Homo sapiens: one gene and its partners. The protein of the gene in region 2 interacts with the protein of the main gene of each other region in a biochemical or structural test. Each region holds a gene or a part of one and is shown on either strand. Other genes may lie near its edges. The genes, in order: USP25, TNKS2, STRN and CACNA1S.

Region 1 (7,780 bases), on a different chromosome or scaffold from region 2:
ACAGAATTTAACTCATCTGCTGCCAACTGCACCTCACCTGAAATACCTAAACCTCAGAAAAGCAGCTTTCTGCAGTTTTACTACATCTCATAAGTCCCTGGGTTGGCCAAACTCCAGCAATCAAGCAAAGAACACATCAAAAGGGAAAGGCAGCCTCTTGCCTCATCATACTACATTGTGACAAAGACTAATGAATTCTATAGGCGAACCAAAAAATCATGAAAGTTTTGTGTAGTGTGGTGCTGCAAACAACAAAAAAACTTACATCCATCTGCAAAATAAAAGTTTTAAAAATCTTGAAAATAATATAGCTAAATAGTAAATACTTAAATTTTAAATAGTAAATACTTAAAATTTAAAAACACATATGTACACACAGTTTTTTAAGGTGAGAAGAAAACTGGCTAAAATGTTGGCTATGCAATATACACTACACACCTCTCCTTTTAGATAACCCATAAAGTGTCTGAGTAAAAACAGACTTTCACTTTTGTTTCTTCTAAGTGTGAAGTTCACTTCCTAGTTACCAGCTTTAAGTCCGCTTCCTGGTTACTAGCTTGACGGATTTAAATCTGTCAACTTATCGAGGTAGATGGTTTACTTGTATCCATATAAATATTTTTAAATAGTTCTAATATGAGTAACAAAGTAATCGTGTATTAATACGGAAAGCAAACACATTTAAGTGTTTCTTCTGTAAAACAATCTAAATATTATGGAAGTATAAAAGTTTCTCTAAAAAAAATCCCCAATAACAATGAAATGATCTAAAACACAGCCATACTAAAAGTAGCATCATAATGATAATATTTTGAATTAACTACTACTCCCTTTGTGTGTGGAGGGGATTCATTAAAGTAGGAAATTGGACTCGACAGCCAAGATCACTTTCGTTAACTTGATTCTTGATTCTACAATTTTATGCATAACCTCTGAACCATACAATAGAGCCTGCATAGTTATTTAATACAGTTTAGTCAAAATCAAATGAAAATAAAAAAATCCTAAACTTACAAAGTTCTTCCCATTGTTCAAACTTAGGAAGTGAAAAATTGGTATTTCTCACTTTGAAACAGACTTTAATATTCAACACTGAAGACAATTATAAACAAATGGTACCATACATATTAAATATTGCTTAGCGTTCACATGACCATGTGCTCTTTCCTAAGCCTTAAGTCTTTAAAAATTGAACTTGAAGGTATTCAAAATAGAATAGGGAGGATTAGGAAGGAAACTCTTTTAAATTCTCATTATTAAATCTTGAATTATTTCACTGTAAATAAAGTGCAGTGTGCAATATCCTTCTAACTTTACCAATAATATCAACTAACATACAAGTCTCAAAAACAACTTTCCCAACGTGCCTAAAATAACAATGCACTATCCTTGCTTTCCAAACTTGAGTATCTTCGATTACTTTAAAGCAGTATCATAAAATTCTAAAAATAATCTCAAAGCAAAAATTTAGCAGGCTGTATGTAGACAGCCCATTTTAGAACAGGTCTTATTCTAAAGTCAAGCACAGGTAGAATATTGCAATCTACACCAAATCTACAACAGGGTGGGGCATTCATTACTCACCCAGATAAACCAAACATAACTCTGGTGGTTGATCACAGTAAACCCTAACTGTCCCCGTAATACCAACACAACTAAGGCACGGTTTACTCTTTTGCCCAAAATGCTTTTCACGCAAATTAAAAATTAAAAAAAGAAGTTAAATCATGGCCAACTACTCTTCAGAACATGGTGCAAGCCATGATAGTGCACTTAAGATTCTGAAAGCAAAATCTAAAATAGCAGAATGATCTCTATTCACTTTAAAGATATAAAGTTTCACAAACAGTTTTTTAATTGTTTTCTTTAGTGAGTGACCATTTGAATGTGTGACTGATGCAAGAGTAAAGGGTGAACGAAAGAACAAGGTCAAACTTAGGGGACAAAAGATTCCTGGAATAACATGGCCAGAAAGGTTTCCTCTCTTAGGGACAGTTTCTATATTGAAAAAAAAAAAAAAAAAAAAAAAAACAGAAAAGAAGAAGAAGAAAGGGAAACCTTAAAAGGAAAAGAAACCAAGCAAACCACCTACTTCTAGAGTCCACCTGGTCAACACGCCTGCCCCGCGAGGCAGGTAATTCGATTTTGGTGGAGACCGTTTTGCAAAATAGCAGGCCTGGTACACTACTACCTTTGAAAGACAAAATCGGTTCAGAAAGGATGACAACTAGCTATTCTTTCTCATTTAAGGGGAGAGAATAAAGTTTCATTAAGATGCCACACAGAGCACTGTAGGAATGTGAGGGTCGCTCTCAATACCTGGCACCGTCTGCTACGGGAAAACAATCGGCAGAAGGAAGTGGATTGAAGCCCGCAAACTACACTCTGCTTCCCACACGCAGCTGGGCTCTGGGCGCGACGCCCCCGAGGCGATGGGCAGGGGCCGGGGGTGACCGGGGAGGAAGCCCGGGAAGGCGGCGGCGGCGAGGCCGGGGCGCCCGGCCGCAGCGGGAGAGGACAGCCCGTCGGAAGGAGAAGTGGGGCCCGCCGGCTGGCGGACTCGCCTCACCTTCTGCGCCGCGCTCTGCTGCAGCACGTTCTGCTCCACGGTCATGGCCCCCGCGGCGGCGGCGGCGGCGGCGGCGGTGGCGCCCGGCTCCTCGCGCCTCCGCCGGCCCTGGCTGCCGCGCTCCGCCGAGCTCCAGGGAGCGGCGCGGACGGCCTGGGAGGACAGCGCCCCCGCCAGCCAGGCGCGAAGGCGATGGCGGCCGGCGTGCGCGGGCACCGCGGGCAGGCGGCGAAACGCCGACTGTGAGGGCCACGGCGGCCGCCTCACGTCTCCACGCGGCCCGCCTCAGCGCCGCTCGTCCGCGGCGGCCCGGGCCATGAGCGGGCGGAGGACGCCGGGGCACGGGAGAGCGCGAGCCAGTCGGGCGGCGTCACGCGTTCGCACGTTCCTTTGCTGCCGGTCCGCGGGCTGCTTTGGGGAAGGGAGAGAGGGGACGGAGGGAGCGGCCGCCCGGAATGGCGTTGTCCTCCTCCCTCCGCGAGTCCTCCTCCCTCCCCTCCCCCACGCGCCATCCCCGCCCCCGCCCGGCGGCTCCTCCCCCGCAGAGCCCCGCCCGCCGGCCGCCCTAACCCTACATTGTGACCCTCCGGGCGGCGGGGCGGGGCCGCCATGGAGCCCCGCCCCTCCCTGCGCGGGCCTGGCGTTCCCGGGTGGGGCGAGGGCGCGCCTGGCTGCCTGGCCCGGGAGCCGCCCCTGCGGCAGGTTGCGCGACGCTGGCGCTGGGCTTCGGGGAGCGCGACTGGAGGCCGGAGGGCAGCGTTCCTCCCTGCGCCCAGGGCTTGTCGGATCCCTAGCTTACCCAAAGCCTCCAAAGCAAACATTTCCCTCCATGCCCATAACGTCCCAAAACTGCGTAGGGTCCCGAACTCCGGCCCCTTTCTGTGTCACGCGTTCTCTCCCCTCGCCTTTCTAGGAATTTCACAAGCCTTGAACTTGCCTGAAGGGAAAAGTCAAATAAGCAAAGGGTTGCCAGAAATCTTTATGCTGGGAAGTACTTTTCTCCTTAACTAATCATTACGTAAATGAATATAGACATTTTCTATCTACCTTCATTCATTCGAATATGTGTCAGTCACTGCTAGGCTCTGGAAAAATAAAGTTTATCTTCCCAAGACTTAATATAAATGAAATAGGATCTATCTAGCAAACAACCTTACAAAAATATCACTGCCTAATGATACATAATTCTAATATCCCAGTTGCCAAATTAAGCAAACAATTAACTACCATGCATGGAATGCTTGACTATATATGGAATTGTAAGGAAAATCTAACATTAAGAAAGCAATCTCTAGCCACAAAAATATCTCGAGTTCCAGGAGCTAATCTGGGAACGGAGGTGAGAGTGCAGCAGTGTGAGGAGAGAAATTATCAATGCATATTGTCACAAATAGAATACACTTGAAAATCCGGGTATAATTTTTAATCCAATGACAAGGAAAGCAAGCTTGGCAAATGCTAATTGAAATAGTATGTGGTGTTATTTAATAATCATGGATTATAGTAGCTCTTAAGGCTTTGTAACAGTTCTGTGCACTTTACAACCATCTTTGTTCTGCAGCTCAGATGTCTGGTACCACCTGTTGTCACCTTTTCCTTGAAGCTTCATATTTGTTGACTCATTTGATATTTAACAAATTGCAAATCTTATTATATTAATATCCTATGTCTTTTCTAGAGGAAATGAAAAGTCATGAAACGGTTGGAAACAGAAATTTAGAAATACTGTCACATCTCTAATCTCACGTATCGATTTTTTTATAACTCTGAAGCCCAAGGAGGGTGACCTGTCAAAGAGAGCTTATCAAAACCCATTTTTCTTCATTTATAGATCAAAGTTTCTTCTTTTCTTGTTTATATGCTAACTTCATGTTTCTCCATATGAGGGTTTTGGTTTTTTGGTTTGTTTGTTTGTTTTTTAGAAATCAAGCTCATACATTTGAATTCAAGAAAATTAAATTTAACATAAAAATCTAGTAATCTAGTACCATGGGAGGAAAAATGTTGCCAGATACTAAGGTTTAATTTCAAGAATTTGGCAATACAACTTTTCTCTGAGTTAAATTTGTTACTTCCATACAGAAAAAAAAAGATGATCTTACAATAGATAATCATCAAATAGAGCTTTTATATGGTAGACCTATTTGCCCACTGAGACTGTTCATTTTCAGCTTACTTCTGAGGGTTTCCTACTTACTCAGCATTTCTTTAAATATTTTTAACTGTTGTACTGAAGAACATTGAGAAGAAAATTTCAAGTTTCCTCATAGGCATTCCTTTTTAGAAGGCTTACAATTGGGATGAATAATTAGAGAAATTTGAGCAATTGAGATAAATTGGCACACAAAACCCATCGCTGGGATTTCCTAACTCATTTTTTAAATTTGCGCCGTGACAATTGTGTTGTATGAGTCAGCTTTAATATGCATGTGTGTCGGAATTATATATCCTCAAGATATTATTTAATAACTTCTAAACTGCTACATTACTCTATGTTGTTGACATTCAGGTAAAAATGTTAAGTGACATATTTCATATAATATGAAATATTTTGTGTGTAACAATGCTGTGGTTTGAATGTATCCCCCCAAAAACGGTGTGATGGAAACTTAATCCCCAATGCAACAGTGTGGAGGTGGGCCCTAATAAGAGGTGATTCAGTTATGAGAGCTCTGACCTCATGAATTAATTAATGGTGCTATCACAAATGTGCAGTCCCTATCAAAAGGACAGTTTCCTTATAAAAGGACGAGTTTGGCTCCTTCTTGCCTCTTTCCCTTTTCCTTTCCTTCCCTCTCTCTCTTTCTCCCCTTCTCTTAGCTCTTCCACCATGCAATGATACAGGAGGAAGGCCTTCACCAAATGACGGCCCATCCATCTTGACCTTCCCTGCCTCCAGAACTGTGAGCCAACAAATTTCTGATCATTATCAATTACCCATTCATAGGTATTATGTTGTAGCAGCATAAAATAGACAAAGACAAACTGCAAGACTATTTTTCTGTTTTGGGTCAAAACGTTATTTCTAGCAATACTCAGTATTGTATTTTATATGTCAACTAAGAAAATTGGTATTCTTCCGCCTTAGGTATCTTTAGAAAGGGGTTAAAAATCCATTTCCGGATACCAAAAGTTTACCATATTGCCAAAACACATTTGTAGGACTTTTCTTTGTTTCCCCCCTAGCTGGTGTTGAGCTCCTGGTCTCAAGGGATCCTCCTGCCTCAGCCTCTGAAGTAGCTACCTGGATTACAGGCATGTCAGCAAAGAATTGTTGAATCCATGGAGCAGATTTAGACAATTTCCATTACAAAAGAGTGGTTTTAAATCTACTGCAATGAGGATCTGAATTATTTTCCTCCTTTAGGAGTGTTGGCATTCTGGGATAATTTTATTTCCACCAATAAGAAAACAATAAGCAGGCTGGGCACGGTGGCTCCCCTCTGTAATCCCAGCACTTTGGGAGGCCAAGGTGGGCGGATCACCTCAGGTCAGGGGTTCAAGCCCAGCCTGGCCAACATGGCAAAACACTGTCTCCACTAAAAAATACAAAAATTAGCCGGATGTGGTGGCAGGCACCTGTAATCCCAGCTACTCGGAGCCTGAGGCAGGGAGAATTGCTTGAACCTAGGAGTCGGATGTTGCAGTGAGCCGAGATGTGCCATTGCACTCCAGCCAGGGTGACAGAGCAAGACTCCATGTAAAAGAGCAAAAAGAAAACAATAAGCAATCATTTAAAGAGGAGTCTTCTATGATGTCATAATGGTACTATTTAGCAATCAGGTGTTCATAGATTACAACCTGCAAGAGTACTGCCTGCCTAATACATGCACAATAAAATGCTTATTGAATTAAGTGGGCAGCCATGAAGGGGAGAAAACAAATGTATTTGTGCTTTTGTGGTGCACATCTAACTCTAACTTCTCATTCCAAGTGGATAGCTTTGTGGTCCTGGCAGCCCAGCCATATTATTCTATATGACAAAATGTGTCATTATTAGTTTCTCCAGCCCTCAATAGTGCCTCACATTTTGAGGGATTCTAGATGTTGCTTCTTTGGTATTGTATTAGTTGTCTGTTCTGCCATAACAAAATGCCACAGATTGGGTGTCTTAAAAATACAGAAATGTATTTTTTCACAGCTCTGGACACTGGGAATTCAAGATTAAGGTGCCAGCAGGGTTGATTTCTCCTGCACCCTCTCTGTTTGCCTTGCAGATGGCCACCCTCTCACTGCCTCTTTCCATGGTCCGTGTGTGCCCACAGTATCTCTTCATCTTCTGCTGAGGACATAAATCATACTTGATTTCAGCCGCACCCAGATGGCATCATTTTAACTTAATAACCCCTTTAAAGACTTTGTTTTCAAATACAGTTACATTCTGAAGTGCTAGGGGTTAGGACTTTTTAGAGAGGTTATGAATTTTAGAGAGACAAAATTCAGCCCGTAACAGTCATATTCAATCTGCTTTACTTAATCCTATGCTTCATACTTTTGTGCCGTCAAATATATTTTTTCATGCCCCATCCTGTAACTTCGTAGATTGGTAAGAGATGCATTAGCACTTTAAAGGCTAGTACCTGCACACATTTTCTGCCAGTATTGGCACTTCCAATTAGAATCATTTTGGGGGAAACAAGTTTTGTGCATTGAAAAGCAATCTAGTCTAATGTGCTTTGCAAGGTCCACCTAGAAAGTAAGGACTATGGAGAAACAGCTAGAATTTATCAACGGAGAGCCAGTGCAAAAGTGTGTTATTTCTTGCCTGCATCACTTGCTTTCACTTACCTTGAACAGGCCCGAAGTTATACTTGCACACTGAAAATGGCTTGGAGGCCTCAGACCTTTTCTCATCACTTTTTAGTCCATTCACCTATACTCAAAAGACAAAGTCTCTCCCACCATATTGGTGGGCACACATTTCCCTGAAATTATCCTATGATATATATGGGCAGAGAAAACCACATGTCAGAATGTGACTAATGTCACTTTCCAAGACCTATCTCCCATGTTCAGCGCACATGATCCCTGAAGAACAACCCAGGGACTTCTAGCTCTGTGATCGTGGGCAAGTTACTTAAGCCTTAGTTCCTATTTGCTACGAGATTGATTCCTTGAGCGTCTATTGTTCTGCTGTAAATCACAGAGAGGACTATCCCTGCATGTTTCACGCTCGTAAGTCAGATGGGTTTGAAACAGATTTGGCTAACA
Region 2 (7,026 bases):
CTTTTCAGTCCGCCTGCCACTGCCCCCGACCATACGCAGATATACACAAGACAGGAATTTTTCTTTTTTTTTTTGAGATGGAGTCTAGTTCTGTCTCCCAGGCTGGAGTGCAGCGTCACGATCTCAGCTCACTGCAACCCCCACCTTCCGGGTTCGACCGATTCTCCTGTCTCAGCCTCCTAAGTAGCTGGGATTACAGGTGCGCACTGCCACGCCCGGCAAATTTTTGTATTTTTAGTAGAGACAGGGTTTCAACATGTTGGTCAGGCTGGTCTCAAACTCCTGATCTCGTGATCCGCCTGCCTCGGCCTCCCAAAGTGCTGGGATTACAGGCGTGAGCCACTGCGCCCGGCCAGGAATGATTTTTTTCCAACACAACAGAATTTGTAGAGGCAAGTTGGTGGTAGGGTGGCTGTTGCTCTAATTTTACTAAAAGCAAAAGTATCTGAAATTCTTGACAGTTAATGCCCTAGAAAACAGCAAATTTCAGTAAAGAAGACTCTGCTTCTGTGAACTTATTTCTAAAAAGTAAAGAAGAGGTGACACAAACTTGGGGAGAAAGTTATCTTGATGCCCATCATAGAAATGAAAGAAATATGTGGCATTCCTTACAATCTTAGAACTCTTGGAGTAGGGGTAGGAGCTTGCATTGTAGAGTCCTAGCTAAACAAGGTAACACTTATTTTATATTTATAGTATGTTATGTTACTGTTAGTATGAGTATGCTACTGAACCACATACATAGGACCAGTTAGACCGGACTTGGATTATTATATTCAATTGTGTGAATCAAATATAAGAGGGGATTTTTTTATTCAGAGGAGGAAAGTGGAATCAGAGCATCCAGAATTTATTGCACAAGCATAGATACGAAAATTAGTGCTGCTTATTCTAGAGATGAAAGAAGACTATACCATGTTATCGTCTTCACATATGTGGAAGAATCACAAAGAGTGAGTGGATATTACTTGTGTGGCTTTGGGAGTCAAAACTAAGGCCAGCAGGTGGAAGGTTACAAGGGGTCAGACAACCTTTAACAATATTCAGCGATCGAACTGTCTGGAAGTATCCAAGCAGTGGCTGGATTGGCATTTTTCAGAGATGTTGTAGAGAGGATTTCAGCCTAGTTCGACCAACAGGTTATAATCTCACTAGTACAAGAAAGTGGGATGATTCCTCCAATTGAAGGCTTTAGCTGCTCAGCTACCAAAGATATACTAGCTTTTGTGATTGCCATTCATATCTTTTCCCAAAATGATAACCATTGGAGACCTCCAATAACCTCTCAGTAACATTTTCTTCTTTGGCTGTAGGCCAACATCATAGTTACAAGAGATGCACAAAATTTATCCAACACTCTTCACCTAGAACTACAGTTATAGATTGTTGTTTTCAGGATTGGTTTTTGCTATGGGAGATAAATCATACATCAGCAGGAAACCCTAGTGTCAAATAAAGATCAGTCTATTTAGGAATTCATCATCTTTCTTGACTTATCAAATCTCCCAATGTATTATCAAGACTTTGAGCTATACCTTTGCCCTCAGCGCTTGCTGGATTTGGAGGTAGACAGTTGACTTCAATAACAAGAGTTTGGAGTACTCCTTTCAGTGTACCCCCATTCAGATGGTCAAAATTTCATCACCGTAGAGGCCATGGCGTTCTTTTCCAAGTTTCTACTAATCTGGCCAGACAGTATGTCTATCCCAAGTTGAGATGGGCAAAGTCCTCTCCCTTGTATTCTTCGTTCTTAAGAAGTATATGTGGGAAATAATTTTCTGGATCTTAGCAAACTAAAGTTAATAGTAAATGAGGCCCGGGCACAGTGCCACAGGCTATAATCCCAGCACTCTGGGAGGCAAAGGCAGGAGTATCACCTGAACTCAAGAGTTCAAGACCAGCCTGGGCAACAATGGTGACACCTCATCTCTACAAGAAAATAGAAAAATGAGCCGGGCATGGTGGCACAGAACTGACACTCTGGGAGGCAAAGACAGGAGTATCACTTGAGCTTAAGAGTTCAAGAGCAGCCTGGGCAACATGGCGAAACCCCATCTCTACAAAAAAATAGAAAAAGTAGCCAGGCATGGTGGTGCAGGCCTGTAGTCCTAGCTACTTGGGAGGCTAAGGTTAGAGGATTACTTGAGCCAAGGCTGCAGTGAGCCGAGATTGCGCCATTGCACTCTAGGCTGGGCAACAGAGGGAAACCTTGTAACACAAAATAGTAAATGAGAAGTTTAAAATGACATTCCTCAGAAAAAATGTGTCACTGAGAGTCCTGGCTAAAGGTTGCTTGAAAGCTGAAGGCTGTTTGATTATACCTTCCAATCTCCCAGACTACAGGAGCTTTGTTTTGTGGCATTTGTTGACATTTTTCCAGAACTTTGCCTTTGGACAAAACCCTGTGTGATAGCCTACCTTTAGATATTGCAAGACATCACCATCTCATATGGGACCAATTGTGTTATCAGTGATTAATCCCACCTTTGGACTATGAAAGACAGGAGGGGGATAGCATTTAGTTAAACTTCCTAAGAGTCTAAGTTGGTTTCTCTGTAGGAACTTGACTGCCTCACAGCTTTTGGGAAACCATTCAGATGAAAGCATGTTTCCAGTGTAGCAGCAAAATGTGATATTATTAACAATAGTCATAGTTAGCAAGCAGTACCTGGAGTTGCTGAAACTGATGGCATCTAGATAAGTAATAAATTTGACAAGAGGCTGCTTTTCTCTGTTTTCACAAATCATTAACACCATATTCTTTGTGAGGATCCTTTCCTATTCCAGCAGAGTATTAGACATGCATTAAACAAATGTTTGTCAAGTCCTGCTATATGCCAGACACTGACCTTGTCCCTGAGTAAACTGAAATGAACAGGACACAATACCTGCCATTAACTGACACATGGTTAATGTGGTCAACAAGTATACTTTACAGATAGGCCTGCTTTGCTTCACTGTAAGTACTATATAGTAGATTCATACTCTGTGTATGGTTTCATCAGAATTTTCACAAGTAGAACAGTGTTTGAAGTTGAGTGCTGTTCCATAATTACAAAATAAACTACAGTGTGTCCTGAGCAGCCATGACTACCAACTTTATTTAGGCTTCTGGTTCCTCATAAAGAGATCCTTAGAATATGGAGATTTACATTGACTCTGATGATATGCCTATTCATGTTCTACCTGGCCAGTGAGAACATGATCAGAATATACCCTGCAGAGCATTTTTTCTTCCAGAAATTGGTGCTTAACAGAAGTACTTTGAACTATTCTTGAGACCATAACAATAGAGATTTTATCAAGGATTACTCCTCAGTTTGGGAAGTATGGTTTTTTGGGGGTTGTGGGGGTGAGGCACAGAGTTTCACTCTTGTCGCCCAGGCTGGAGTGCAGTGGTGCGATCTTGGCTCACTTCAACCTCCACCTCCCAGGTTCAAGCAATTCTCCTGCCTCCTGCTTCAGCCTCCCGAGTAGCTGGGATTACAGGTATGTACCACCACGCCTGGCTAATTTTTATATTTTTAGTAGAAACAGGGTTTCACCATGTTGGCTATGGTGGTCTCGAATTCCTGACCTCAGGTGATCCACCCACCTCTGTCTCCCAAAGTGCTGGGATTACAGGTGTGAGCCACAGTGCCCAGCCAGGAAGTATCTTCAATCTAAAGATTTCGCCAAACTCCAAGCAACTTTTTTTTTTTTTTTTAAACATAGCTACCTATTGACTGCCTCCAAATAATTTCCTTTAAGTGCCCAAGATGTGGCTTCAAACATTAAAATCTCAGACTATTAATCTACTGTCTCAGCATAGCAGATTACATTCACTCACATATTGTAGTCCTTACAGTGTGACTGTAAAATCATACCTCTACTATCAGTCACCAGACTGGTTTCAGACATCTTAATGACTAGGGAATCATGTTGATACAGACATTGACACAGAAGTCTGTGTCTTGGAATGTTGGTAACTATGTGGATATAATCACTTTACCCATTCTACCCATATCGATCGCCTCAGCTAAAACTTCAGTTTCAGTTATGTCTTTCTCTTTAACTCTGATTTCATGCAACCCTCTTCTCTTTCCAGCCTTATTTTGACAGAAGGCTACTACTTGACCTTCCTTTAGATCACCAATCCTTTGGGACAGATATCTTCCCAGTTGACACTGTCTCTCATAACAGCTAGTTATTTTACTCCAGCTATTTCTGTGCACATCTAACTCTCCTTTCTGGGGGAGTTAACCTGTGAGTCACCATTTTGATTACTTCAGATATGCTTATTACTGCTGAAGAATAGTAATCCTTATTCTAAAATGCTTGGGTACATCAAATAACTTTATAGAGGTAGCTTTACAGGTTTTTCTTTATTTTGATTCTTTTTCTCTTACTCTCCAATTTAAGAAGCCTTTTTCTAAAAGCACTTCCTGCAGGTGGGTGCTAAGTGGTTGGGATAGCAGAACCATAGATTAGGGCAACTGTAGATAACCTACTTGGGGAGGACAGTGTGATCAGCAATGCCCAGGAAGTGATCAGGAAGGAAGGCTGAAGTCAGGGCTAATGACAGCAAGAGCTGACCTTCCCCTCTGACATTTTCCTACTTGGCTTCTGCAATGCCATTCTTTCTCTTTTTTTTTTTTTTTTTTTTATATTTTATCTAATATTTTATTTACTGATCTCTCTGAAACATGCCAAAATTCATATAGCTAAGGGAACTTACCATGCTAAAATGTTGTTCAACATGACAAATTTATACAAAACATATTTCAATGTAGTGCCTTCATTTCATTCTTGAGGAATCAACATTACATTTAGGTGGTGAAATTTAGGATACAAATATAATTATCAAATATCGTACTTCTAGTTTACTGGAAAACATAACAGTTGTGACAGTAACACCTAACACCTTGGTTAATTAAAGACAGAAAATGGGCAGGGGTGTCACAGAAGTATGCAAGGATTTGACAGTTCAAACTAATCCATAGCCCTTCTGAGAAACTACAGATGGAAAATATGTAGTAAATATTTCTGTAATATGGTGGTTTCAGTACATTATAGCACAGTGATCATCATTCCATTCATACACTCAAATAAATGCTGCTTCTGATCACTGAAAACTAGATTCAAAGTCATTGCTCAACAAGCTGATACTACAAATCCCTTATATTAACAGGTACTTTAAATGTGGAAATAAGGCAAAGCATACTTGTTAGTCACAATTACTTTTAGATATAATTGAGACTACACTGCTATACATAATTAGGTACACAGTATGTATAACAATGCATACTATGGTGTGGGGTTAATTCCAATTACCATATTTTATATTTATTGGTCACAACAGCATACATTTTATGCTCCAAAATACATGGATCTGACAAAATGGTTACATTTAATGTTCTTTTAAGGAAAGATGAACTAAATTTAAGAAGAATTGGTTTTTCCTAATATCTCATTTTCAAATTACTGATACAAATTTGCCAGAGAAACAATTACATGTTTTACCTAACATCAAATAATCTCCAGTTTCTAAGACAGATGCATTTCTTGTTCAGTTTCCAAAAGTAAATAAAGGCTTTCTAACTGAAAACATTTGCATCCCTAGCTCTCTAAAGTAAACATTAAAAAGAAAATTACAAAAAATGACCTCTAAGCTTCTGAACAGTCCACTTAGTTACATAAAGTACTTTCTGTCCCAACACTTTCTCTAATTCAAAAGATATTTACTTCCTAAGTACACGACAAAGTCTTCATTTCAAACCATTCACTCAGTTTCCATGGTAACATTGCGGGCTTCCTTGGCTACCATAAGTCGCATTAGTTGACTGTGGAATTTCTCAATCTTCTTTACATCTTGAGCTTGGTCTGTTTTATACACCAAACAAACTAAATCATCTGTTACTTTAACACACAAGTTCCCATCAGAATGCCTATATTTGAGAACCACACGTGCCTTCATAGGGTCAGCGAGGTAAAGCTTCTCGGCAGCGCGGCTGAACTCCTCCCAGGTCTGGTACTGCGGCATCGTGGCCTAGAGTGGAAAAGTAAAGAGAAGCAAGGCCTCAGAACCCGGCCCAACAAACTACCTACGTCCGGGAGTCGCCAACCGACGCGAGTCCTGCAATGCCATTCTTTCTTAGCTTTACTTCTCAGACTCCTTTTCATATACTGTGATACCTTAATTCAGCAAATGTCAACAAATTGCTCTGTACCATGTACTCTAAAGGATGCTGGGGAAGTAGTGATGAATTAAGATGCACATGGCTCTTGTCCTTCATGGAACTAAGAGTCTAGAAAATGCCGGGCGCAGTGGCTCATGCCTGTAATCCCAGCACTTCGGGAGGCCGAGGCGAGCGGCTCACGAGGTCAGGAGATCGAGACCATCCTGGCTAACATGGTGAAACCCCCCCTTTACTAAAAATACAAAAAAAATTAGCCAGGCGTGGTGGCGGGCACCTGTAGCCCCAGCTACTCTGGAGGCTGAAGCAGGAGAATGGCATGAACCCGGGAGGCAGAGCTTGCAGTGAGCTGAGATTGGGCCACTGCACTTCAGCCTGGGGGACAGAGCGAGACTCTGTCTCAAAAAAAAAAAAAAAAAGAGTCTAGAAAATAAGGCAGTAATTACAAATTTTAATAAGTGACAAATACTGCTATGAACAGCAAAGACAAAAATCCCTGTTGTATGGAGCTTGCATTCTAGTGAAGGAGGTGGGAGATAGACCAACTAAATGGTGTGAAGATAGGAAAAAATGTGGATGGGCAGAAGGGACTATTTTAGATGGGATGGTCAGGGATAGCCTTCTTAAGGAGGTGACATTTAAACAAACCAGGTAATGAGTAGAAGTGAGGATGCTTTGTGCAAGGGAAGAGCATTCCAAGCAGAAGGGTGGCATGTACCAAGTCGCTGACATACTTGACAAACTGAAAGTATATTATAGTTGGGAAAGGGAAGAATCGTGTGAAATGAAATTAGAGAAGAAGTTGAGGGCCAGTTCATGAAGGAGCTTTTAAGGCCATAGTAGAGTGTTT
Region 3 (7,026 bases), on a different chromosome or scaffold from region 2:
ATGTGACTTTCATTATTTGTCTTTAGTTCATTTATTCTGTGACTGTTTTCAAAATTTCAATGTTAGGAAAGAGAATTGCCTGATAAATCTGGAAATATTTATAAATTACAATTTCCTGCTATATGTGGGTGCCATCTATGGCTTAGTCTAGAGCCACTAACGCTGTTCATTCTACAATGTTCTGTGAGATTTTGCTACTTTAAGTAAGTTCTATCATCACTTACATGGAGATAATTCTCAAATTTAAATCTCAGCTCTTTTTGCATACAAAGTTCTGTATCACATCATTATCATCTAAAGATATATATGACAAAGAGGGCTTCTTAATCCTTAAATCCCTTTATCACTCTTCCTCATCATAATAGAAATGGTCATTTGACAGAACTAGGTTTGGAATCCTAAAAGTCAGCATCCTAACTGTATTTTTTGTGTTAGTAAGTTCCAAAGAAACTTCAATTATACACACAATGAGACAGGCAAGCACATATCATTAAGCCTATATTACAGTGAACACATCAAGGTTCAGAAAAAGTTGTGACTCCTCCACAATCAGGTGACAAAATCAGTACCTATTCTAACTTCTGACTCTCTCCCAACCTGATGGTTCATGCAGATCACACAACTGTCAAAATTGGTTCCTAAATGATCACACATTCTTCCTGAAAGGCTTTTATTAAAAAGAAATCAGTAATTTAAAACCTCAGTGATTTCTGTTAAGCTTTTTTTAAGAGAAAAGAAAAACTGACATAAAGAAAACACTAATTGAAGGTATGTCAAAGTTTTAAAAATTAAATTATGGTCCAGGGAGAGGAAGGGGTGTCCTTGTAAAATATATTACTGGAACAACTCTCAAAATTTGAATATAAATAGTAATTCAGATAATAGTATTGTGTCAATGTTAAGTTTCCGGATTTTGATCATTGTAATACACTACATCAGAGAATGCCCTTGATCTTAGAATTACACGCTAAAGGATCTAGGGGAATAGGAGCATGACGTCTCTCATATGGTTCAGAATTAAAAATTATACACATATATAGAGTGAAAAAGCAAATGTGACAAAATGTTAAAAACTGCTAAATATGTGTGAAGGGTAGCCAGAAGTTCTCGTACTATTTTTGTACCTTTTCTGCAAGTTTAAAATTATTTCAAAATAGAGTTTAAAAAATTTTTTGAACCCTAGAATAGGTATTACAAGTTTATATTCACATAATAGAAAATACAGCTAAAAATAGTCTAATCTTACAGGATTTTCATGTGGCTCCTAGAAATATAACATCTTAAAAACTGAAGACAGTCTTTTCCCAATGCTAGTGGCAGGTAATTACCCAGCCTGTTATTTAAATATAAAATGTGGCTGGGCACGGTAGCTCACACCTGTAATCGCAGCACTTTAGGAGGCCGAGGCAGGCGGATCACTTGAGGTCAGGAGTTCGAGACCAGCCTGGCCAACATGGTGAAACTCTGTCTCTACGCAAAATACAAAAATGAACCAGATATGGTGGCACACGCCTGTGGTCCCAGCTACTTGGGAGGCTGAGGCAGGAGAATCGCTTGAGCCCAGGAGGTGGAGGTTGCAGTAAGCTGAGATCGCACCACTGCACTCCAGCCTGGGCAACAGAGCGAGACTCTGTCTCAAAAAAAAATAAATATAAAACAAAAACTCACTTGACCATGTGGAGTAAGTTCTTAGTCAGTTACACCTGGTTTAGATCCTAAACAAAGAGATGTTTATTTATAAAATTCAGACTACGCATTATTTCCTCCACAGATAATACTCCATTGAGCAACACCCGTGGTAAAGTCCAGCAAGAGAATAACAGTAACAACAAAAAAAGAAATACTTTAAGTGAAATATCCCATATATTCTGAGAGAGACGTTTCAGAGAATAGCCTCAATTGCTTTGAGAGCTAGAAAATAAATATGATTGAAATCAAATCATGGAAACAGGCAAAAGAAAGTTCTTATTTGGTAACACTTTTAAGGAAGCTTCTCCACTTGATGATAAATCAGAGAAGTCGGCAGAATGCAAAGAACACTACTCATACCTAGCTTGTGACGTATCTGCTTCAACTACCTTTGACTTTACCACAGTCAAATCGCCATTGACATCAATGAGAAGAAGGGTAATTTATTCCTATTCTAACAAACATCCTTCATCACTTTAAACTCTATATAAAACTCACTTTCTCCTTGAAGCTTGTTTGGTCCTTTCATTTTTTTAAAAAAATATGCTAAATTCCAAAACAGAACAACACAATCAATTATAAATAACAAGGGGTAGTTCACAGTAAAACATAATAAGAGACTAATTTAAGTTTTCTTTATACAACTTTAAAAGTAAAAAACATAATTTAGAAAATGTCAGGACATATTACAACTCAAAATAATGATCATTTATTCCAGTAATGTTGCCTTTGTTAAAAACATTCTTGGAAGTTTTCTCAAAATGTTTCCAGTGTCAAGTAAAAAGTCCTATTAATTTAGAGTCACATCTCTTGGGGGAAAATGTGGATTCACTCGCCTAGTTCTCTTTATCCATCTTATCTACCAGACTTGACATCTTATTAACCTGCAGTCATTAAAAAGCACTATTTCCACTCAGGATGTTCACAAATTGGCCATATAATCTCTGAAGGTAATTACAAAAATGTTCTCATCCTTTCTAATTTCATATTAGTTTTTTATTTTGCTACTGTAGCTTTGAGTCATATATTTAAACATGATTTTAAATTTATTGAGAGTCTAAAACCTGTAATTTCTTGCTGAAAAAAATTCTCCTTTTCCAATTCTATCACCTGAGTTTAATTTATTTTCCTGTCTCTCTCGTTTACATCCAAGTAGCTCAAAGTTCTATTCATGCTTACTTCCCCAAACAAGTCTCAGCATATCAGAAGAAAACAATGAACAACAGGTTAGGAAGGGAAAATGATGAAAACCACAAAGGAATAAAGAAACTTTTTGAGAGAGAGAGAGACAGAGAGTGAGAACACCACAAGAACATATGTAAACATATGCATGTACATGTTCACACATGCATGTGCACACACACAACATATCATCACTTTTAAAGCTAGTTCTCAGATTAAAACAAGAGTATATGTATGTCGTATTCTTCATCAACTGCAACCTAAACTGTGATTGTCTAGATTATGGCTAACGACAGAAAGCAATGGTTAAGAAAGCCAAAAACCAAAAAAGAGTCTGTAATATCTTCTTCATAACCTGAAAAAGCACTTATTTCCTGACTTCCTGCATCCAATAAGAAGCTTCAGGTTTGGAATTCTGAGTGCCACAACATGATCTGTATTGAGCTGTACCAAATCATACTATTAATATAAAATTAAGTTGATTTAAAATATGAAATTACGAGAAATGAAAAATAGAATTTCCTATTCAGAATAAATATGGCTTTCTTCAAATAGAATTGAAAATTAATCATTTAGTATAAAATAAAACTTGACCCATAACAGCTCAAATGCTATTTCAAACAGTATAGTTATAAATGTACATAAACTTAACCCAAATTCTTAAAAGGTAAATAATTACAACCTTCTAAGTAACTGTGTTCTGAAAGTTAAGAGACAGAAAGCTTTATAATGACAAATATTTTTCACAGCTGACTCTAGTAGTCGTAATTTTGATTAAGTTAAAAAAATAAACACAGACAATTTAAAATTGGTATGCATACTTGTATCTACATTGGATTCTAAAGTGAGAATGCGTTGTTGTGTTTCCATGTTAAAAATGCTTGTATATCCCTTGCTGAATGATGCTACCATATGGCTCGGGTCACTGCTCACTAGATCCACAGAGGCAGGGATTCCCAGTTCTGAAAGAGAACATATTGAAATAGAATGGCAATTAAACCATCTACTTGACAATCTGCTTAAAATAGAGCAAAACAAAAAATGGCATGGTTTCCTTAAGAAGTAAACAAGGCTTACCATTAGAATAAGAATTAGCTCATAACTATTCATTGGAGATTATTTCTTTGTAACTTTTAGCCCTAGTCTATTTATTTCCCTTACCTGCTTAGCAGATCTTCTACCTGTTACTCAACTGATATATTCATGGAATGCAAGCCTTTATTTAGAGAGCAAATGGAAAACATGTATGAATTACAAATTTTGCTGCTTCCGCCCAACCTCAAGCTTAGAGTGACATAGTGGGAATTCTTCATTTTAAAAAACCCATCTCTTATTAGGGATGTTAGCTCATCAAAAATAGAGAAATTAAAAAGTAAAATTTAAAATTATTATTTATCGTTAGAGTCATGCAAATACCATATGAAGACAACTCATCAAAGCCTGGAAAGAAGTTATAATAGCTCAAGAATACAGAAGGTATTTTTATTTACCATCTAGAATACATGAAAACTTAGAGCTTATTTATAAACATAAAAATAGAAGGAAACATATAAAGTGAATATAATAATCTGATTTTTTTCATTTGGCTCAAAATCTAACTACAGCAAGGTAACAGTTCAAAAATGTGCATACTGCAGAAGAAGATACACAAATAACCAATAAGCAAACAAAAGAAATGCTCATCAAAATTAGCCATCAAAGAAATGCAAATAAACTATGATGAAATACTACTACACATCCACCAGAATGGCTAAAGTTAAACAGACTGACAATACTGTATGTTTGTAAGGATGCAGAGCAACTGGAATGCTCATACACTGCTGTCAAAGGTGTAAAATGGTACAACTACAAAATTTTTTTGAAAAATTTTTAGTGACTTCACATAAAGTAAAATAAACATCCACCTGAAAGCCCAGCAATTCTAAGTCTCTACACACCTATAATGAAAATATATGAATGTTCATAGCAGCCTTGTTCAAAATAGCAAAAAACTAGAGACAACCCAAATATCCATCAAGATATAAATGAATAGACAAATTATGGCTTAATGAAATACTATCAAATAAAAATGAAAGAAATAATTGATATAACACAAATGAATTTCCAAAACATTATAATGAAGAATAAAAGCAAGATACAAAGAACACATACTTTACTATTCCATTTACATGACGTTTGAGTAGATAAAACTAATCTATGATGAAAGAAATCACAACAGTGGGTACCTCTGGCTGGGAATAAGGAAAGGAGGGGACTGACTTGGAAAGACACGAAGGAACTTTGGGGAGATAAAGGAAATGTTCTATCTCTCATACGGTTTGGATCTGTGTCCTCACTCAAGTCTCATGTCAAACATAATCCCCAATATTGGAGATACGGCCTGGCGGGAGGTGATTGGATCATGGGGTGGATTTTCCCCTTTGGTGCTATTCTCGTGATAGAGTTCTCACAAGATTTGGTTGTTTAAAAATAGGTCCCACCCCCTTCTTCCTCCTGCTCCGGCCATGTAAAACATGCCTCCTGTCCCTTTGACTTCCACCATGATTGTAAATTGCTTGAGGCCTCCCCAGAAGCCAAAGAAAAGTTGCTATGCTTCCTGTACAGAACCGTCAACCAATTAAACCTTTTTTTTTTTTAAACAAATTACCCAGTCTCAGGTATTTCTTTATAGTGGTACGAGAATGGGCAAATATAGTCTTTTTTTTTTTTAAAGAAAATGTAGAGACAGGGCCTCGCTATGTTGCCCAGCTGGTCCCAAATTCCTGGCCTCTCGTGATCCTCCTGCCTCAGCCTCCCAAAGTGCTAGGATTACAGGTGTGAGCCACCACACCTGGATTCTATGTCTTGATTGATGTATGAGTTACATGGGTGTACTCATCTATCAGACTCACTGAAATGTATCCTTAATATCTGTTTTTCACTACATACAAATTATATCTTAATTTTTTAAAATCTAAAATCTGTGTGTTCTTTCACCAAAAACTATGCTTTCAAAAATTATAGGCTGGGTGCAGTGGCTCATGCCTGTAATCCCAGCACTTCGGGAGGCTGAGGCAGGCGAATCACTTGAGGTCAGGAGTTCCAGACCAGCCTGGCCAACACAGCAAAACCCTGTCTCTACTAAAAAAACTACAAAAATTAGCTGAGCGTGGTGGTGTGTGCTGGAGGCTGAGGCAGGAGAATTGCTTGAAACTGGGAGATGGAGGTTGCAGTGAGCCGAGATTGCGCCACTGCACTCCAGCCTGGGCAACAGAGTGATACTCCGTCTCAAAAAAAACAAAACAAAACAAAACAAAACAAAACAAAATTATATATAGGTTGGAAATTCAAACAAATACACTTTCGTGGCTTCAAAAACTTTCAAATTAAATTTAAAGAGTTCAGGGAATCATTTATCTGCTTGCTTATTTTCAGAATAAACTGTTTTATAGAGGATTCAGCAAAATAATTTTTTAAAGTATGTACCTTTAGTATCATTAAATACACTTAGTGCTGGAGCAACCTCAGTTGTATTCCATAAACGCAGAGTGCCATCTGCTGAACAGGACAACAAACGCTGATGTGCTGCACTATAAGCCAAACCCCAGACTGCATCCGTGTGGCCTAGCAGAGGGCCTCGTAAAACAGAAGGATCTATACAAAACAGTAAAAATGCAAAATCAGGAGAAAAACAACCACAAAGGTACTTAGATTTCAGAGAAAGTAAAATATATAAACAATAGCACCTGATAACAGTATAAAATATGATTCTTGGTTTCTATTATTCTTCTGACAGGCTACAGTAAATCAAAACAAGCTTGGAAATATACAAATATAAAGTTAAAAAATTTTAAATTAAAATTTAAAAGCACGTATTTTTCCCCCTTAAAAAAACTGAGTATTTCCTCCCCCTTCCTTTTGTCCTTCCATTTGTCTAAATATTTTTAAAGCACGTTGATACGAAATCATTTGAATTTAATTCATCTTTGGAGAAACCACAACTCACACTCCCTGAGGAAGTGAACAGAGAGGTCCTCTCCCTCTCTGAAGTCCCTTAGCACTTTGGCTATACTTCCTTCTGTTCACTTATCTTACTATATGATGGATGGCAGTTTTTCCTGAAAATATGGCATTCATAATGGACAGGAAGTGACATCTACAGGAATCCCCAAATTC
Region 4 (7,026 bases), on a different chromosome or scaffold from region 2:
GTCAGCCTCGGATACTGTCTCCTACTCCCAACCCTTGGGCCCAATAGAGGAACCAGTTGAAAAGGAAGGCCCGACATATTTCCATCAGCAAGCAACAGGACCACCAACTCCTCCGTGTTGCCCAGCTCCCACTGAGAGTGGACATACAGTCATACCCATACCCAACACGCATCCCAGTCTGTGCGGAGCAGTCCATCATCATCCTCCCTAGCTTCGGACGACAGCCGACTAAGGTAGGTACTCTTATCCCATTTTACAGATGAGGAAGCCAAAGCACAGAGGGATTAATTTCTCCAGGATCACATAGCTACCAAGAGGCAGAGCCATGATATGTATAGACAGTTTGATTCCAGACTCCATGGTCTCAACCACTATGCCAGGCAGAGGGGAGAGAAAGATACAGTATGCCTGGGACACCTGGGTACATTTGTCAGATCCCGCCCTCAATCCACCCCAGGTCTGTCTTTGCCCCCCGAGGCTTGGGTTCAGTGTGACTTCAGCTGTGGGCTGTTAGTGCTGGGAGGTCAGAGAAGGAAGGGAATGAACATTTATTGAGCAACTCTTGTGTGCCAGGTCAGACACGAGGTTGTTGCACTCATGGATATAACAGTCCTGAAAAGAAAGATATTGTGGACCAGCCTGACCAACATGGTGAAACCCTGTCTCTACTAAAAACAAAAAAAAATTAGCCAGGTGTGGTGACGTGTGCCTGTAGTTCCAGCTATGCGGGAGGCTGAGACAGGAGAATTGCTTGAACCTGGGAAGTGGAGGTTGTAGTGAGGTGAAGTCGTGCCACTGCACTCCAGTCTGGGTGACAGAGGAGACTTGGTCTCAAAAAAAAAAAAAAAAGAAAGAAAGATATTGTGGTCCTCTGTTCACAGATGAGGTAATGGAGGTTCAGAGAGTTTAGGAAGCTGCCAACCAGTCTAGATTGGAGGCAGGTTGGTTTGACTTGAGAGGCCGTCCTTTCCTGCGACTCCCCAGGGAGCTAGCAAAGCTTGGGCAAAGGCTTTCCTCCAAGGCTTTCCTCCAAGGCTTCTGTTGTTCAGCTATTACAGTGTCTGCAGCCCCTGTGCCTGGTGTGAAGGGGCATGGGTTGGGATGGGCGGGGGAGAATCTAAGTGCCCTGAAAGGGGACCTGAGTTCTTGCAGTGGTGGGAGGGCAGGCTCCCAGGTGGGTCTAAAATCCAGGCTTTCATTCATTTCCACAGACCCTTTTGGAGCACCATCACTTCTCTGTACAGTGGCCCAGGCTCAAACCACCCTGTGCTCTGCAGGTCCTGGATCTCTAAGGGGTGAGGCCAGAGCTGCGGTCCTTCTGAGGCCCCAGCCTCCCCAGATGGCGAGGGGAATGGGCTGCTGGCCACAAGAGTTGGCGAGCGCATTCCAGACCCTATAAAAAGACAAACGCCCTGGCTGCCAGAGGCTTAGGCTCCAGCCTCGTGGAGGACGCTGCAGCAACTTGAACCCCAGGAATGCGACAGGGGCCTGGTGGAGCCTGCTGATGCCTGAGGGGTGGGAAGCCACCCTGCAGCCCAGGAGGGGCCAAATGGGCAGCCATCTTGCAGAGCTTGCCAGGCCCTGCCCTGCCCTGCCCTGCCCTCGAGGAGAGCAGGCACCATCTACTTAAGAAAAATCTAAATTATCCAGAACTTGGAAATAAAGCAAAGAAAGGATGCCATATCTTTGTAATATCATGTTGGAGCATTTTATAACAGGCCTGGCCAAGGATTATCTAATTATCCAGGTCAGGGTTTCTCAACCTCAGCCCTAATGATATTTTGGTCTGGATACTTCTTTGTTGGTGGGAGGGGGCTGTCCTGTGCATTGCAGGGCCCCTGCCTCTACCCCACTAGATGCTAGTAGGACACATCTCCGCCCCTGCCCCTCCCCCTCACAATTCCAGTTGTTGCCAAATGTCCTCTGGGGCAGAACTACTTCCCCTCCCCAATCCCTTGAAAACCACTGACCTAGGAGGGAATGTAACTTTGTTTAGCTCTCACTATTCTGTCCTCTAGAGATGCAAATGAATTCTGCCTGATAGGAAGATAACCCCAATGGTTAGAGTTTTATTGCCCTGTAGGACATTAACCAGCTTGGTATCTAACCTAGCAATCCTATTCCATCATTCTCTCTCCGGTGTCATAACTTCTGCTGCTCTAATTCCCTTTAACTCAGCTTCACACGCCTGCTTGTTCTCTTTTGAGTTGAACTAATCTTTGATATGTGTTCCTTGGATATTTTACTCACAGTTGTGTTTTCACTTTTTGAACATCATACTTTGACATAGGATTGCTTTGAGGGTGAAATGAGATAATGTAGCAAAAGCAATCAGTTTATCATGTCTGCCCAACAATTAGGAAGTCTGATAATTGTTTTTGCTTTTCCACATTGGTCCCCTCAGCCTGGCCTAGGCTGGAATGGTAACCCTGCCCAATAAAGGATGTAGGCCTGCCCACAGAGCCACCTGGGCATGTGCAGTGATCTAACCTCTCTGCGCTGTGGTTTACTCCTCTGTACAAATGAGAAAAATAAAAGTACCTGCCTCATGGGCATTCAGTGTGATAACACATATAAGGCATTAGAACAGTGACTGACAATATGCAAGTAATCGATAAATATTGAATGTCATTGTTGCTGCTGCTGCTGCTGATTTGCTGGAGGACTGGGGAGGGGTGATCAGGAAAGCCATTAAGAAAAGTTAGGGGTTTCAAGGAGAGAAGACACAGAGTTAAAGAGAAATCAGGGACAAACGATGGGCAGGGTGAAGAGGAATTCTTTACCTGAAATAATCCTTTGGCATAACTGTTGGGGGTTAGACCCTTTGAATCTAGAACAACCTGGGGGTCTCTGTGACTATAGGCTTTTTGGCTGGTGAGCCTGCTCTGTGGGGCCTGCATGATCAAAGTTCCTTCTGTTGATAGATAAAGCACTACAACTTAGAAGGTCTTCACTCATCCAGTTACCTCTCTCAAGTATACAATATCATCCCCATTTTATAAAGGAGGAAACTGAGGGAACAGAAAGGTTACATAACTTGTCTAAGATCACACAGCTAGTAGGTGAGTGGGCCTGGGCTCAAAAGCAGATTCTAGCTCCAGAACCCATTTTTATAACCACCATGCCATAATGGGCTGATTTCAGAGGCCCGTGCCACTGTGACATCCCACAGTTGGCCAGGATGTCAGCATCCTGGATCCTCCTCTTGCCACCCTCTGATCAGCTGCATATTCATTCCCAGGACTCCTTGCTCTCTCTGGGCCTCAGTTTCCTCTTCTATTCAGGGAAGATCCTGGGATTTCCCACAGACACAGAGCAGGCAGAGTCAGAGGTGTACCTCTAGCCCCAGGAAACCCGGGCCCCAAGTCTATTACCCTCAGCCAGTGCTGGCAGAAGGGATATGGAGGGACACTGCCAAGGGAGCCTATTCCCACAGACAGCAGTCACACCCCCGGCCCTGCTCGCACACACGGCAACTGAGGGAAGCCCTTCTTGCCCACAACCATCCCCGCCCCTGCCCCACCCAGCCAGTTTGGCATGTGCCAAAGTGAGGAAACCTCTGTCATAAAATGCTTGGACCTGCAAATCCAATTACCCATCAGTGGACACAGGCACCTGTATCACCACACATCTGAAGTTGAACTCACCACCTTCCTCCTCCCTACCCCCATCTGCAGTCTTGGTAAGTGATACTGCCATCTGCTCTGTCCACTTCTGACCCCCAAGTGTCATCCTCCCCCTCCCCCACACCTCCATCCCCACCTCCAGTCCTCACCATGGATTCCACCTGGCAGGTCTTTCTTAAGGCCACCTCACAGCCATCTTTACCATCACCAGTGCCTTGGCCCAGCCTCCCCTGTTTCCTGCCTGGATGACTTCCCTGGGCTCCCTGCCCCCTTCCCTGCTTCCCATCTCACCCCACGTCACCCCAATCCATGCTCCACATGGGGCCTGAGAGATTTTTCTAAATCCCCCCCTGACCTCTCTGTCTCTTGCCTCCAGCCCTTTGCCCACGTGGCTTCCTCTGCCCAGAATCCCCTCTCCCGCTTGGCCTTCTACAATGCGCTCCTTCACAGCCAGGCTACATAATGGGGGGCCCAGTACAAGTGAAAATGTGGGCCCCCACGTTCAAACAGTAGGAAATGAGTGCTGATGAAGGTACTAAATATAAAGCTTTTCCCTTTCTTTCAGCCCCTTTCTCAGCCTACTGTGGTGTCTTTTGATTGCTGTTCAGTGTTGTGCAGGGCAAGTGCAGATTGCCACAAGCGCCTCCTCCTAATCTTCCCCCTCCACCCTCACCATCCCACAGCCCGACATCCTGTGCCCTGGCCAGAGGTGGAGGTGTGGAGCCAGGCATCTCCCCTTCACTCAGACCCACCACCTCAACCCATAGTGGACATCCGGCACCCAAGGGTGTTGCAATCTCTGCTTCCTGGGAAACAGTAAGTACCCAGAATCGGGGAGGGCCTTGGAGGCTCAACCTCATAGGTCATTTACTGAATGGACTGCAGCAATGTCAGCCCAGGGTAGAGACAACCAGAGCCATGTCCTTCCCTGAGACACGGCCCTTCCCATTCTCCCACTCAGGCCTCTGCCAAGTGGCCCAGGACCCCAGAGGGCAAAACATCAAGCTGAGAGCCCCTCCTTAGAGGCAGGGAGATGGCAGAAGTCAGGACCTTTTGTGAGCCAAGGTTCCAAGCTTGAGGTGCATGTGCCATTGTCCCAATGGACTTCACTTACAAATCATAAATTCAAAGATAAAATTAATTAAAATCTCAATACTTTGACCACAGAGCATTCAACCCCAAATGTGGGGCCCTTCTGAGTGGGAGTCCTCTGGGACTGCATAGGTGGCACTTGTGTGAGCTGTCCCTGTCCTCAACCTTTAGGTCTCAGGTTAAACATCCCATACTTGGGGAAGCCTTCCTGATCTCAAGACTAGCTTAGGTTCTCTGTCAATATGCTACCATAATATCCCCAAATCTTGAACCTTTCCCATTTCATTTTAACTACCTGTTTAATTGGTTTTATTATATTTACTTGTTTAATCCATGTAATGAAGCTCTGTGAAGATGGGAAATGTGTCTATTTGGTTCACAGTGATATCCCCAGTATGTGCCAGGGATGTGATAGACACTAAAGATGCATTCGTTAAATGAATGAGAAAGGTCATGAATAATTAAACCTTAGGCCTCCTTTCTTGAAAGCTACGGGTTATTCTGGATGACTGGAAAGACCCCAACCCTTCTCTGCTACCTACAAAGCAGCCAATAGGGCAAGAGAGAGAGTGCCTACTGCCCTTTTCTACTCTGACTCCTCTCATCTCCCTCTTGCTGGGTTTTGTGGACATGAACAGTGAGGACCCCTGAGCTCGAAGGTGGCTGAGCGACCTTGGGTATCACCGACTTTCTCTGGGCTTCACAATTAAGGGGTCAGGTTAGGAGTCCTCACTGAGCATTCATTTCCCATAGAGCTCTGACATGCCAGGTGGCATTTGCTGCTTTGGAAACATTTCTGATTAGGTTTCCGACTTGCAGGGAACTCATAATACTGTCTCTATGAACTCTAGGCCTAACCCAAGGTTTTGCAACTCCAGCCCACAAACTAAAGAAAAACATACACAGGACCACGTGAAACAGTTAAGGGAGCCAATTTTGTTTCAGGATGGAAGATGACATAACCATTAAGATGTAATTTTTTTTTTTTTTTTTTGAGACAGGGTCTCACTGTGTCACTCGGGCTGGAGTGCAGTGGCATGATCTTGGCTCACTGCAGCCTCGACCTCCCAGGCTCAAGCAATCCTCCCACTTCAGCCTCCCGAGTAGATGGAACAAGAGGCATGCACCACCAGGCCCCGCTAATTCAATTTTTGTAGAGACGGGAGTCTCTCTATGTTGCCCAGGCTGGTCTTGAACTATTGGATGCAAGATTTCTTCACGTCTCAGCCTCTCAAAGTGCTGGGATTACAGGCATGAGTCACTGCATCCAGCAGAGGTAAAATTTAATATCCTCCAAGGTGGGGCAGAGTTTTTTTACAAAAGTAGTCAATGTCACAGGGAACTGAGGCCCAAAAATATGAAATCCTGAAGGGTGGGGTAGACCTAGAGCTCTCCCTGCATTCAGGGACATGGAGACTAACCCTATGGTGTAGAATGCCCAGAGTTTAAGAAATGCCTTCCTTGCCGGCAAAGGTGGCATTGGCCCTGCCAACATTTAATCCCACTCTCCTTCCACACTCAGGAGCTCAGAGTGTTTTCCCCTCATAGCAAGCACACATTTAGAATCCCAGCTTCCCATCAGCTCAAGATAGATTCCCATGGAAACCAGCATAAAGGAAAGGCAGAGATGTGTCAGGCCCTGGACACATGCAAATATGCCTCCTCCCTCCCAGGCCCTGCAGTTTCAGTGCAGGAAAAAAGCCCTGTTGAAAAGGTGGTTCCATTGTTCTGTCCCCTAGGGAGCCTGAGGCCACTGTTTATAAGAGGGCTTCCCCTAGAAGTCTTTCTGCCGTCACCCATCACCTTGGCAACACAGCCTGTACAAGAGCAGGTTCTGGCTAGGTGTGGTGGCTCACACCTATAATCACAGCACTTTGGAAGGCTGAGACTGGTGGATCACCTGAGGTCAGGAGTTCGAGGCCAGCCTGGCCAACATGGCGAAACCCCATCTCAACTAAAAATATGAAAATTATCTGGGCATGGTGGCAGGCGCCTGTAATCCCAGCTACTTGGGAGGCTGAGGCAGGAGCATCACTTGAACCCAGGAGGCGGAGGTTGCAGTGAGCCGAGAGCCGAGATCACACAGCCTGGGCAACAGAGTGAGACTCTGTCTCAAAAAAAAAAAAAAAAAGAGGTTCTAAAATCAGAGAGACCAAGCTGGAGGCCCTACCACAAGATATAGATGTGGGTGACCCTGGGTAATGTGCCTAAACTCTCTGAATATCAGTCTCCTTTGTCTTTTAAATGGGTCTAATAATGTTACTTACCCCACAGGAGTAGTTATAGGGATTAAATAATACAATAATGT

Evidence for each region.
Region 1: the proteins of TNKS2 (region 2) and USP25 interact in a biophysical measurement, tested with the Homo sapiens proteins (one study listed by IntAct).
Region 3: the proteins of TNKS2 (region 2) and STRN interact in a biophysical measurement, tested with the Homo sapiens proteins (one study listed by IntAct).
Region 4: the proteins of TNKS2 (region 2) and CACNA1S interact in a biophysical measurement, tested with the Homo sapiens proteins (one study listed by IntAct).

Annotation. Positions count from the first base shown.
Region 1 is NC_000021.9:15,725,228-15,733,007, reverse strand, and holds the start of USP25 (ubiquitin carboxyl-terminal hydrolase 25), read right to left. Parts: upstream 3,027-7,780; 5' UTR 2,615-3,026; coding exon 2,570-2,614; exon of another isoform or gene 2,320-2,569; intron 2,006-2,319; exon of another isoform or gene 1-2,005. UniProt on the Homo sapiens protein: Deubiquitinating enzyme that hydrolyzes ubiquitin moieties conjugated to substrates and thus, functions in various biological processes including inflammation and immune response.
Region 2 is NC_000010.11:91,801,418-91,808,443, forward strand, and holds part of TNKS2 (poly [ADP-ribose] polymerase tankyrase-2), read left to right. Parts: intron 1-7,026. UniProt on the Homo sapiens protein: Poly-ADP-ribosyltransferase involved in various processes such as Wnt signaling pathway, telomere length and vesicle trafficking.
Region 3 is NC_000002.12:36,851,520-36,858,545, forward strand, and holds part of STRN (striatin), read right to left. Parts: intron 6,505-7,026; coding exon 6,337-6,504; intron 3,834-6,336; coding exon 3,693-3,833; intron 1-3,692. UniProt on the Homo sapiens protein: Calmodulin-binding scaffolding protein which is the center of the striatin-interacting phosphatase and kinase (STRIPAK) complexes.
Region 4 is NC_000001.11:201,102,412-201,109,437, forward strand, and holds part of CACNA1S (voltage-dependent L-type calcium channel subunit alpha-1S), read right to left. Parts: intron 1-7,026. UniProt on the Homo sapiens protein: Pore-forming, alpha-1S subunit of the voltage-gated calcium channel that gives rise to L-type calcium currents in skeletal muscle.